Linked DNA regions of Homo sapiens: all the other regions are linked to region 2. The links come from fine-mapping of genetic effects on gene expression. A gene starts in region 2. Each other region holds a variant in brackets. All regions are shown on one strand. Distances are between the middles of the regions.

The links. PIP is the estimated chance that this variant, and not a neighbour inherited with it, causes the effect. A credible set is the group of variants that fine-mapping cannot tell apart.
Region 1: its variant is the best candidate, but not a certain one, in a credible set for the expression of C3orf52 in lung (TOPMed, PIP 0.69).
Region 3: its variant is the best candidate, but not a certain one, in a credible set for the expression of C3orf52 in fetal neocortex (Walker 2019, PIP 0.50).

The regions. Positions count from the first base shown.
Region 1 is chr3:112,125,747-112,129,987 of GRCh38, reverse strand. It overlaps GCSAM (germinal center associated signaling and motility), which reads left to right. Exons shown (of 6, transcript NM_152785.5): 3 at 1,927-1,971; 4 at 2,955-3,001. It also overlaps a transcript of C3orf52 not described here. Among named protein-coding and RNA genes, the nearest start is that of GCSAM, 5.4 kb to the left of the region's middle. RefSeq lists an enhancer at 2,847-3,480. The variant C/T (reference allele first, on the strand shown) is at 2,484.
Region 2 is chr3:112,084,231-112,088,471 of GRCh38, reverse strand. C3orf52 (chromosome 3 open reading frame 52) reads right to left here and starts at 2,083. Exons shown (of 6, transcript NM_024616.3): 1 at 1,927-2,083. The coding sequence starts at 2,064. RefSeq lists silencers at 2,169-2,218, 2,239-2,288, 2,339-2,388 and an enhancer at 1,905-2,421.
Region 3 is chr3:112,009,518-112,013,758 of GRCh38, reverse strand. TAGLN3 (transgelin 3) reads right to left here. Exons shown (of 5, transcript NM_001008272.2): 4 at 1,894-1,996; 5 at 1-349. The coding sequence ends at 208. Among named protein-coding and RNA genes, the nearest start is that of TAGLN3, 13 kb to the right of the region's middle. The variant C/A (reference allele first, on the strand shown) is at 2,015.

The DNA of each region.
Region 1 (4,241 bases), 42 kb before region 2:
CCTCATTAATTCTTTTTGAACAGACCTTTCAAATGTCCAGCCCTAAAGAATTCTCTCTAAGGAAAGGAATAATTAAAATATGGAACTAATGTTCCAGGATCCAAGAATCCTAAGGGCTGACAAGGTCAGTTTTTCTGTGGCCTGTAAAGTTATCTGTGCTTTTCACATGGTTTCAGGAGGAGATTTTGAAAGAGGAGCAATTAAAAAACAAGCACTGTTGTTATTTTCTAACACCAATGCCCGCGTTAGGGGCTGGAGACCCAGAGATTCCTTTCAACAGGGTGAATTTTTTCAGTTCAAGTTGAGAATTACATATTTTCAGGGGTATCATTGGGCATATTTTAAGGCATACAGTTCAAATGATGAAATAAATCAGAAGGGCCACGGCATTATAACAAGGGAGAGGTTGGGTAGACCAGAGAGCCAGAGAAGGCATTGTGAAAGAGACAGATACCTCAAATTCCTGACACGTAGCCTAAGGGTATAGAGATTTGTCTAGCTTGCTTCTTGGAGGCTATCTGAACCCATCCCAAACCAAAACCACCATGTTGAAATGCAAGAATAAACTGCAGAAAAGTCAAGTAGGAGAAACAGCCAGCTTACAGATCGTTTTTGCCCATATTTAACCTCAGCTTATTCTTATAACTCCATGTGTAAGCAGTATATACATCCTCTTTTATAGATTTAAAAACTGTGGCCTCAGGAGTTCAGAGAATATCTCTCAAAATCATCCCCCTCCTCTTATCTCATTCATTTCTCCTCAGTGAATCTGGTTTGTTAACTTGGTGTGATTCAGTAGTTTTCTTACGATGTTTCCTTAGCAACAAAGCAGATAATGTAAGCAAACGGTCTGAAGCACATTGAAGGTAACCTAAAGAAGAGGAAGAGCTGCAGCTGTGCCTCTGGGCCCCAAAGGCTTTGATGATGCATAGATCTTAGAGGTTGTCAGAATGCTCAGCCAAGCAGGTGATCACAGCCAAGGTCACGATGCAGTCAGCCTCTCCTCCACTGCTCCTCCTGATGAAACTTCATGGGAAAGCTCACGGGGGGAGATATTTTTGGATGGTGTTTTCCAAACATTTTTACATACTGTAACTGATACTACTTTATAAAGGGCTTTCACATTCAACCATGTAGGTAGTTGACTATGCCTCAAATTCAGAAAAATGTACAGAATGATACTTATACATTAATGTAGATGCAGGACTGCAGAGAGATTCTAAGCCTTTGTGCTATAAGAGAGAGAAGTCCTGTTATTTAACTATATCGTTGGAGTCAAGGTGGTAGATTTGCTGACCTCCTGCACCAGGGTTGTCCTGTCCTTGGCTATTCATTCTGTATTCATATCTTCATCAAATATTTTTTGAAAACCCATTTACTGTGTGCCAGATGTTGTGTCATAGACTGGAAATACATACCACGATGAACAAGATCAATATGGTCCCCAGCTTTGTGAAGCTCACATTCTAGTGTAGAATATAGACAAGTGAGCAAACAATTGCAATATACTGTAAATTGGAGAAATTCAGAATATAGTAAAATACTGATATTGCCTAACCCATACCTGAAAAAAATGATTTGTAAAATTTCCATACACTTGTACCTTGATTTCCTGGGGATAACACTTACGTGTTCTTCATTACAAGGGAACCAAGGAAATTACCAGAATTGAGAGTGAGGAAACATTTTTCCTTTGCTGGGAACACAGCAGAAAGCTTTTTTCCTGATTAGGAATTTGATAGTATCATCTTCATCCTAGGAAGACAAAGGCATTCTACCATGAGAGATGTGTCCAAGTTATCTAGAATGAAACACGCTTGCGGGGAGAAAAAAAGTTTTCCACAGAAATGGCAAAAGGAAAGGAGTCACCTTAACAAAGCTGCAGAAATCAACCTTATGATTTGCCATCTCTCTTGGGTATTTTAGATGCTGGGATCACCATATCGCTGAAGGGTGTTTCTGCCTTCCATGGTGAGTGGACAGTTGTTTTTAGGAGTTATTTCCCTAAGTGTGGTTTCAATGTGGTATTTGCTGTAAGTTACCTGTGACTGTCTGTGGCCACAGTGGAAGCCTGTCAGTAGCCCAGATACAATCACCTAAGAGTTAATCAGGGAAGCAATCCTTCCAATTTGATGAGAAACAGGAACAATAGTCTCATGGGTCGCATGCTCTCCTCAAACAGGAAAGCCTCAGAAGCAAAGATGAAACTAGCTACTAACGTAGAAAACATACGTTTTTTTCACACTGCAAATCTGAGTCTGCATGTTCCGAAGCACACATTTCTATCCCTTGCACATAGAACTTATAGTCGGGGTGATAGTATAATTTATCATCTGAACTAAGATACCTTTGAGAGTGAAAGGGATGCTAAAAATAGTTAAAGCTCGCTAAGTGATTGATAATGACCTTCACCAGACTGAGGCAAACCAGGACATAGGGTTACCCTCACAGCAGATGTTCTTGTCTACTGAAACGATAGTGGG[C/T]TTCCATTATATTTATATCACATTTTTTCAGGGAGTCTTTTTACAGTGTTCCCTTATGCGAAGAGTGTGTTTATTTGTTTGTTTGTTTTGGAGATCATAGATTAGAATTGAGATTGAAAATAATCCTGGCTCCTTCACTCACATGATAGAAAAGAAATTGATACTTTGTCAGAAAAAAAGTCTCCAAAAAAGTAACCTCTATCACCATATTTCCCCATCTATAAATCAATTCCCTATCAGATTTAGAAAAGAAAGAGAGGAGGAGAGAGAGAAAGAGGCACAAAGGAATATATTTCTATTTGGCCTCATCTTTTACTTTTTTCTTTTTTACTTAACTCATCTATGCTGAAGGAGGTATTATAAAAGGTATATAACTTTAACAAAGAGTTAAAAGTAAGTTTTGTAGGCTTGTGTCATTTCCTTTGAGAGTTTCTGAATATTAAAACAATTTGCTTTGCTTTTCTTTTACAGGAAAAAAATACTCATTTTTGAAAAGAGGCAAGATTCCCAAAACGAAAGTAAGTCATTGATTTCCTAGTATTTTCACTTTTGATAAGACTTACATTTCCAAACTACTTCTTCTCTATGTTCCCAAAGCCCCTTAGGCATATTTCAATTACAATATCTACACATTTTGCTTTACTGTATCCAATTGCATGTCCTTTGTCCTCAGTAGATGGTGAGCTCATTGAAGCAGGAATTGGCTCATTAATCTCCAAATTCCTCAGTTAGTGCCTGAGGCCTGGAGGCTGAAGGCAGTAACTGGGGGCAAGGATACAAAAGGTGGAGGAGAAAGGCACTTACAAGAAACTGCAAGAAAGCCAGCCTGGGATAGGGGAGGGGTGGGGCCTCCTGGCCAAGTTAAAGATTTTCATCTTTGTCCTGACAGCTGCAGGAGATACTGGCTTTACACAGTGGGGAGGCGGGGGCAAGTATGATTAGATTTGTATTAAAGATATCACCCAGGTTCCTGTGCAGAAAACAAATTGCAGCAAGGAGCCGGAAGAGCAGATACCAGAAGAACACTTACGAGGCTGGTGCAGTAGTCTCTGGTGATAGAATAGCACTGAAGTTAAGGAGAAAGAATTCTAGAAGGAGAGTGTGATGAATTGTATCACACCTAAAAATAAAAATAAGAAAGTGTAGGCCTGAGGACAAGCCATTGTGTTTCTGAAGAAGAAAAATGGAAGAGTTTTGACTTTTCCTTCCTTAAAGAGGAGAACCTAATTCATTTACATAGAATCTTAAAATCTAGCCCTGCAAGATGTGTAAATGAATAATACAGCCTCCCACCCTAGCCACTTCACTCCAGGAGTCGTGGGTCCCAGGGAACCTCAATTTCCATCAGAGCAAAACGTAATAGAAATAAGACCAGATGCTAAAACTCTATGCTGAAGATGCTTTTCTTATAATGATAATCAGGGAAGTTTTAGATGCCTATAGGAGCTTATGGAGATGTGGAAATCCAGGATGTGAGGACCGAGAGAATGTCAATCCATATACCATATGGTAGCTTCCTCTGTAGACTTTCATGTGAGGGCACATGTTTGTTTATGGAATTGGTGTGTTTGCAAGAGGGTAGCAAGGGTGTCAGTTTGCCTCTTTGCTGAATGGCCAGAGCCATTTGGTTTTAACTAGGCTTTGAAAAATCGCCCTGCTCATTTGTTATCTGCCAGCAGGTATAGGAATGGGAATATTTAGCTTAAGAGTTTCCTGCTCTGCAAAACTCCTTGAACACCAATTATCACACCACCACCA
Region 2 (4,241 bases):
CATTTATGCATCAAAAGTATTTGTCACAAGACAGTTACTAAACAGGGTTAATGAAAATACATGGACTTCAGCTACATTTCAAAATTAGAAATCTTAATATACAGTTCAAAGAGACCAACACACAAAATTCTTAAGTGTCTGAATCTTTTTAATGAGCCTATATTTATTGACTTTTCTAACTGAAATACACTTCACTTTATTTTATAGGACAAAAGAGAATGATTAACACATTAGATGAGATTAGTTCAAGGCATTCCTTGAACACACTCCAAGTACTCCTGTAGCCCTTCACCTTCACTCCATCCTGTTACTGAGGACAGCTCTCCTATTGGGTGACCTACAAAGCTAACTTACAAAGAAGTCCAGGGTATCTGTATATACCTTACTAACAAGGACGTCATGAGAACATTAAAGAACCATTGCTACAGGGTAGGTGCTAAACAATTACAGAATACTGATAACCCTGCATGGATTTGGCTTGTTCTACCCACCACCTGTTTTCAACAAGGCATTCCCAGGCCTCACAGAAGGCCGAGTAGGCACACATTACCACTACGGGACAGGCTTGCCTCTGGGACACACTTCTTAGTGGCAAAACTGTCACCAGATTTCTGGATTCAGCCCCAAGCTAGGGAGTCTTTAGGGTGTGCGGGTCCATCTAATCTGAGGCAAGTATTTCCAACTCCCATTCCTGGACACCGCCCTGGAGGACTCATACAGCCAGTTCACAGTTGTGGCCACTTGCACTGGTGACCAGACTATCTTTGTTCAACCTTCATTCTTCTGTGGCATTCATATTTTATTCAGAAATAAGTTTCCAAATTACTCTCCAGAGTACCTATAAAAGCAGACTTTGCAATAGTTCCAGGAATCAATGTAGAACAAAAGCAATGCTTTCAACTTTTGAATTTCCTGCTTATCCCTAAAATCAACAGCTGGGCAGCCAAAAAGTTGGGGGTGGAGGAGTGGGGCCTAGAAAGATCAGGTCGGGGCTCTATATGGGGAGTTCTGTGCACCCAGAAAACCTCAAGCCAATCTTAGGAGTTAATCAGAAGGTGGATGGCTGGGAAGTCAAAGCTCTGATGTTTTACAAGTCTTTGATGAGAGTGAATAATGTTCCCATCATTGCTAGGGATGAATCAGAAAAGAGCTTGGCCTAAAAATAGCCAGGGACTTCCTTAGGGATTGAGAGGAGGTAAAAGCAAGGTGGGCGAAGTCTCAACCTTCGAGACAAGAACTTTGAAATTATTTTCTTTCAATTGAGCAGGGCAAGTTCACCTCCCCCGCGCCGACCCCCTAACCCGCCCGCCCCATCTCTACGCCAGCCCTACCCCTTCTCCCCTTCTGACCGCTTTCTCTCCTCTGTGCTCTCCCCTATCTCTCTTCCGGCAGAATCCAATGGCCAGGCTGGGAGAAGGCAGAAAGTGCTTGGCGGATGGTAGGCATGGAAGAAGGCTGGGGGCTGCGGCGAGGTGGGTGGAGGGGAGGGAGAGAAGTGGCAAGGCAGTGAAGGTAAGAGGAGGACAGAAGAGATTCTGAGAGAAGGAGGATACTCAATTTGTCATTCTCATTCTCCCTACTGGAAAAAAGAAAAACTGAATTAAAAGTTACATAACTTTAAAAAACTACTTCCATCTCCGGAATACCTCTCTGAAGACAGCAGCGGCCACACCTCACCACTAGGATTCCTAAAGCGCCTCGGGGGTCAGAGGGGTTGGAGGACCCCAGGGGCTGGGGAGGGGACTGCTCGGGCCGAAAGGTGTCGCGGTGACTCGGCTCCATTCAGAGCACTCGAGCGCGCCCCACCCTCGCTCGGCGCCGTCGACGCCCCGCCTGACTGGAAACCCGAAACTCGCGGGTGCCAGGCCCGGGTCCTACTACTGTCCCGCCGCCGGCAAGTTAGGGCCAGCGCCAAGGGGACCTTACCTCGGCCGGGGGGACCTCCTCGTCCAAAGAAGGGAAGACCTTGTCGGCACCATTGAGAGGCGTGTTCTCTTCTGGCTGCCGCTCGAGCACCGAGAGCTCCAGCTCGTCTACTGGCTGTGAGGGTTGGGCCAGGTCCATGTGCCGGCAGGGAAAGTCTGAGCGGCTCCGCGGGAGGCCACAGCGCCGGCGAGTCGAGCGACCTCCCCGCCTCACACTCCACCCACTGGGCGGGGCGTCGCGGACCTCGGGCGGCGGGAGCGGACCGGAGCGGACAGGAGGGGCAACTGTGAGTGGCGGCCACTCCCTGGATCCCGCGGGGTAGAGCACCTGAGGCCGTGCCGGAGTGGGCTCCAGAGCCGAAGGCTGTTTTTCTGATTTGTTCAGGGCGCTGCCTGCTATGCCTTTCCCCGCGCCTGCAGATGCAGACCATCTCCGTTTAGGGGCTGCCTGGGTGCCGGGCTGTGGTAAGGAAAGGGTGGGCCCGGCAGCACCGTCCAACGGAGAAAAGTTTGCGATCTAACCCTACGAACTGTTGGTTGTTGGGGTTTGCCACAGTCCTCGCGGCCTAGCAAAAGTGCATTCATTCAATCAACAAATAACCATGCCTCGTGCCAGCATGGTGCTAGGTTCTGAGTGCATGAAGGTGAATAATATACACCAACACACTTCCTCGCAAGTCCAGAGTCAGGCACAGAGACAGTATTGTGTGGTGCTGGGGACAGCGGACTCTAAAACCAGTGTACCTGGGTTATTCTCCACCCAGAGGGTTCCTCACTGTGAGACCTCGGTCTTCATCTCTCTGTGCCAACGTCCTCATCTGGAAAGTTGGTGTAATATTTGTACCCTCCTAAATGTAGTTGTTACCAGGATTACAAGGGTTGTTGTAAGCAAAGCACTCAGAACAGTGATTGACACAGCAAGCACTCATAAATGACCATTATTATTTATCTTTGAGAGGAGGGGCCTTACACACACACACACACACACACACACACAATGCACGCGCACACACAATCTCCTTGACACCCTATCTGTAGTTCAGAACTTCCGGTTTAGTTAGCATGGAATTATGTTTGTTAAGCACAGCATGGGTTGGGCCAAGGGCCTCAACTCTCAAGCTTCTGTTCCGAATAGTCTTGCTCCTTACTTCTCACCCTCCACGCAACACACACACACACACACACACACACACACACATTAAGACCAGACCATTAACAAGAAGCATATAAATCAGCTCCACTCCAAATATGTTGACTTGAGTCCAAAAGTCTGGCATCTTCAGTACCTGATGTTGAGACACAGCCTAGATATCCTGTCTCCAGCAGTCTGATGCCTGCTACCAGATCCCCTGAACTTTGGATCCATCTGCCTGCTAAGGGGAGTCTGCAGTGACTCATCTGCTGACCTGCACTGACTTCTGCTCCAACAGGTGGATCTTGCAAGAATCAGGCTGCATTCTCAGCTGGGATTTTTGAACAGGTTTTTTAACCAAGGAGCAAGGGTTAAGGGAATCAACAAGGCATGGTGACGTACCCAGGGACTAGCAATAGCGAGAAGCTGTTAACACTCCTAGGCCTAAAAGGGACTGGAGACTGATAAAGAACTAGAGCCATTGAAGGGTGTGGGAATTTGCAGGGAGGTCTTGATAGGATCTGTAGTCACGAAAACATGCAGACCTGACTGGAAGCACTGACACCTCTCAAACTTCTGATTCTCCCCACCCCCATCCTTACCCAGGGTCCAGAAAACTTTTCTCATAGTTCCCTTATTTGATTGCAGAAGTTCATCCTAAATGTGAGATTTTTTTCTCACTTCAGATGGATAGTAGCTATCTCCATGCCTGATTTCTCCATGCACAGATACCTAAAGCCTCCCTCACTCCCCCAGAGAATCAAAAAGCAACTGTTCCTGTCTCAAGCACACCCTAAACCACATCTTCTAATGCCTTTTGAGTACTGTTAAGCAAGGTTTATATACTCTGTAATTAGATTTAAATGCATTTCTATAATTCCATATGCCTAACCCTTGTTCTCATGTTACAGTGGAAGGAATATAAGTTCTGAAGGCAGACAGAACTAGGATCAAATTTAGACTCTCACTATCTGTGTGTTCTTGGGCAAGCTGTTCAATGTCTGCTTGTTTTCTTATAAAATGATTCCTACCTAGCAGAGTCAGGAAGATTAAGGTAAAGAATTTATTCCTGTGCCTGAAAAATGAAAGGATCTCAGTAAATGCTCCATTACATTCCCTGACTGTGTCTTTGTGGCTAATACCCACTCTCCCCCGACCCTTAGCACCCAGCACTAACCCTTGAT
Region 3 (4,241 bases), 75 kb after region 2:
AAGCGGAGTCTTTGCATAGTTCTAAATGAACAGGAGGTGGCAGCAGTAGGCAACGCGGATTCTCGGCGGAAATGCAGCACTTGCAAAAACCAGGGACAGAAGGCTTTGAGAAAGAGGAGAAGGTCAGAAGGTGACTAACTATTTCTTTTTCGTAGAGACCATGGTGTGGAACATTCGTCCTCTCTACCAGGGGCAGGATGCCGCGTCCTACATGATCTGCCTGGGCATCCCGTACCCTGTCATGCCCGCCTGGGAGGCTCCCTTGTTGCTGCCCATCTGCAGGCCTATTACGTTCTGTCCCTGGCGAAGCTGCTCCTCGGAAAAGCCTCTCCGATTCTGCTGGGCTTTCCTGGACAAGGAAAGTGAGAGGGAATAATGTCATTATGACAGTTTTCCAATCCTTTTCAAGATATGCAATTAGACAGGCTCTGCTGGGGGTCCCCAAATAGATCAGCAGGTCCTACCCTGAGCTGTGGTTATGAGCTATGGCCCTACTCTGAGCTATGGCCCTACCCTGCACTGTGGACCTACCCTGAGCCGTGGCGCTACTCTGAGCTATCTCTGGCCCTAGCCTGAGCTGTGGCCCTACCATGATGCATGAGCTCCCTATCTTTTAGAAGCCCAGGTGTTTTCCAGAATTCCAGCAAAGAGTAGGGCAGAATCAGTGGCTACCTCTCTGGGGAATTCACTCTCAGCTTTTCTTGTTTCTCTTTCTCCCCACTCTCCCTTCTTCCCCCACCACTTTAGGCCATCTCAGACTTCTAAGAAGAAGCCTGCTTCTTCTTACCCTTTCTCTCACAGCTACGTCAAGCCTTTGTGAAAATTAAAATTGGTTCTTCTTACAAAGCACATCATTAATCCCATTCCCCCTTTCCCTGTATAGGGCCAAGATGAATATACCCTTTTAGAGCCAAGGGACCTAAGAGTTAATGAGGGGAAATGTCGCACTCTAGATTAGAGGTCTGCAAACTTTGGTAAAGAGCCAGATAGTACATAATTGTGGTTGTGTAGCCACATGGGAACACGGTAGTTCACTAATAATACAGACACTAAAACCAGGGTTTCAAATGGCCAACCTCTCAGAAGTTTTCAGGGCGAGTGTTCTTTAAAATGACATAAGCTGGTAACTTTTTTTTTTTTAATAACTGTCAAGGAGAAGAAAAGGGGATGCTGGAAATGAATAATCAATTATTTGCCACAGGGCACTCTTCTACAACTAAATTACCCAGTTTAAGCTTCCTGCCTACCCTACCCCCTGAAAAAAAAATCATTTTAAAAAAAGACCCTTTACTGAGAGATAACCATATAATTTGTCATCCGGACTAGGACGCTGTTGAGAGTGAAAGAGAGTTCTATTAATAGATATACTGGGACAACATAGATATTAACCATGACTGTTCCAAACAAACATGACATATTTACCCTTTATTAAGTACACAAACAAAAAAGAAGGAAGGAAGGAGGGAGGGAGGGAGGGAAGGAGGAAGGAAGGAAGGAAGGAAGGGAGGGAGGGAGGGAGGGAGGGAGGGAGGGAGGGAAGCAGCCAGGCAGGCAAGAAAGCTCAGAGCTGGCTTAAGTCATAATAAAGCCAAGTTCAGACATGAAGCCACCTTCAAGAAAGGCCATCCAGTCCTGCTGAGCCTCAGGAGAAACAGAACCTGGGTGGAGCTGGGAGGTATCTGGTAGAAAAGGCCCAACCATTTCTGCTCTGGTTAGGTTACTGGCCTGTACAGAAGCATCAGTCTTTCATTGCTTTGGGGAACTCAGTTGTGGAGACAGCAGTGCTTGGTCCTGGGGCTTTGCACATAAAGCCTCTGTAGAGTTCCAAGGCTTCAGACCCTCCCTCTGGTTAAAATCGCCTTGTGGTCCAGGGGGCAAGGAAGAGGCTTTTACCTGTGAAACCAGGATGGCTCTCCCCGATAGCAGCCATCATCCTTGGTGACTGCAACGCTGCCTAAAGCCATCAGGGTCCTCTGCACAGCTGCCATGTCCTTCCCTGGAAGCCAACAAAGAG[C/A]TTAAAGCCAAGCACGTGTCAGAGCCAAGGAATGCTGGAAGGATACGGCTGGACACCCAGGAGGGAAGTTCTGATAGAAGGCTGCAGGTGACCAGATTCAAGGGAGCAGTGCTATCAAACACCTCCCAAAGTGGCCCTAAGACAACCATACCCAAACTTCTCAGAAAGGAACAAAAAGTAACCTGGTTAATTATTCTCTATATGGTACATACCAGAGATACCAAGTTTCTAATCCGTTCATAGTTGCTGTATAAATAAAATCATCCATGTGCATCAAATTGAGTATTCACTTTGCTCTTTGGGCCAGAGGCCTGGCAAATGAAGAACAGCAAATCAACACAGAAAGCACTCAATGTGACACAAGTGATAGGGCCTTTATTTTGTGCCGCTTGAAAACAGCTAAATGGAGACAATAAACAACTGGCTTGTGTGTGACAGAGAGGAGAGCAAGGGAGAGGGATGTGCAGTGTGGCCCCTGCACAGTGGGATGGGGAGCCCTGTTACCTAAGCAGCCCAGTGACCATTAACCCATGGAGAAAGCAACTGGGCCTTACAACTCAGCCTTTCCTCCCATTCTTTCTCCTTTCTTCTCTTCCAGTTGACTGACCTGTCCTAAACTGAGAAGATGCTACTGAGGGGGTGGCCTGCAATTTAGAATCAGACCAAAAGTCCATGCAAGGCACCAGTGTGGAATACAAAAGCTAAAAAGCATAGGGTTAAAAGGGAAGGCAGCATCTAACCTGGCGGGGAACTGTGAAAGTTAAGGGCAAATATTAAGGCTCTCTTTAGACCTGGTGAACCGTCTGCAGTTTTTTGGCCCAGCTGCTGCAGCTCAGTCTCTGGGGAATACAGAATTACAGGGGAAAGGCAGATGGAAAGTGAGAATGGAGTATGAACTGTAATAAAATAAACAATTAAGGCCTTCAGAGGAAGTCCAGCTCAGGATCTTCATTTATTCGAAGAGGAGAGACAGAAAGCTGATCCTCTCTCCCCTCTACCCCCACCTCCCATGTTAACCACAGGGTGATTGCCTGAATCCTGAGGCCCTGTGGGACTGGTTGGTGAATACAAGGATAAAATGCTGTCAATGGATAGTCCCCCAGACTCAAGGAATAACTGGGGTGGTGGAGAATGAAGTATTTCAGAAGCAGACAGAAGGGAGAAGGCATAAGGAATATTCAGAACTAAGAAGAAACACAGAAGTTGTTGTTAGAATGACTCTTCCACAGGTGAAAGCATTTCTGTAATTGTCACCATATAATGGGACACTTTTTAAAAAATATAAATGTAGTAATGATATTCTGAAGGTTCATTCTGTGAAGAGATAGGGAGAGGACTTGCTCTTAGGCAGTGAACTATTAAAGGGAACCTAGAGAAATAAATGAGCAAAGGAAGGCTTAGGTTAGGGTATATCACTCATCTCTACTGTTTACAAAGAGCACCCTGGATACTTGTTTCTGGTGGTTGGAAAGAGCTATTCTGATATGTCCAGGATCTGGGAAAATGTGGGGCCTGACATCCAGCAGATCACCCACAGACACTACCCTGGAGCAACGGATGAAGAAGCAAAGTTTTATTAAACTATAGAACTAGACTCCTTCAAAGTAGCTAGTTCATCCCTGGTATCCCTGCATCTAGAAAATTCCCAACACTTAGTTCCCTACTTAGTTCCCTTTGTCCTTTCTGGGTTCATGTAGTAGTCTATATAACACTTCTTATATATAAGACTATATATAAGAACTTATAAGAACTAACACTTATATGTAAGTGTTATATATAACACTTCTTATATAGACTACTACATGAACCCAGAGAGGACAAAGGGAACTAAGTTGCCGGCTAAGATAAGATATCCAGGAGCCTAGAACTATCAACACAACTCCACCCTCATCCCAGGAGAGTGGAAAAGGAAGTGATTACACTTGAGAAAGAAGCCACTAGGGAAGCGGGCATTATTTGACAGGAAGAAATTGGAATTTTTTCCTTAAGAAACTTTCCAAAGCAAGATATTTGATGTAAATTATAGGGTAGACACTGTATATGTCATCTCAACCTCATGGAATTGGGATTATTCCTCCTCATGTGTGGACGAGAAAACTATTTCAAAGAGGTTAATTAACATGCCCAGAGTCACCCAATCAGTTAACAGAGCCCAGCTCTAGATCAGACCTGTCTGAATGTAAAGCCCTTGAACAATCCACCATGCCACTCTGCCATCTCCCATGGC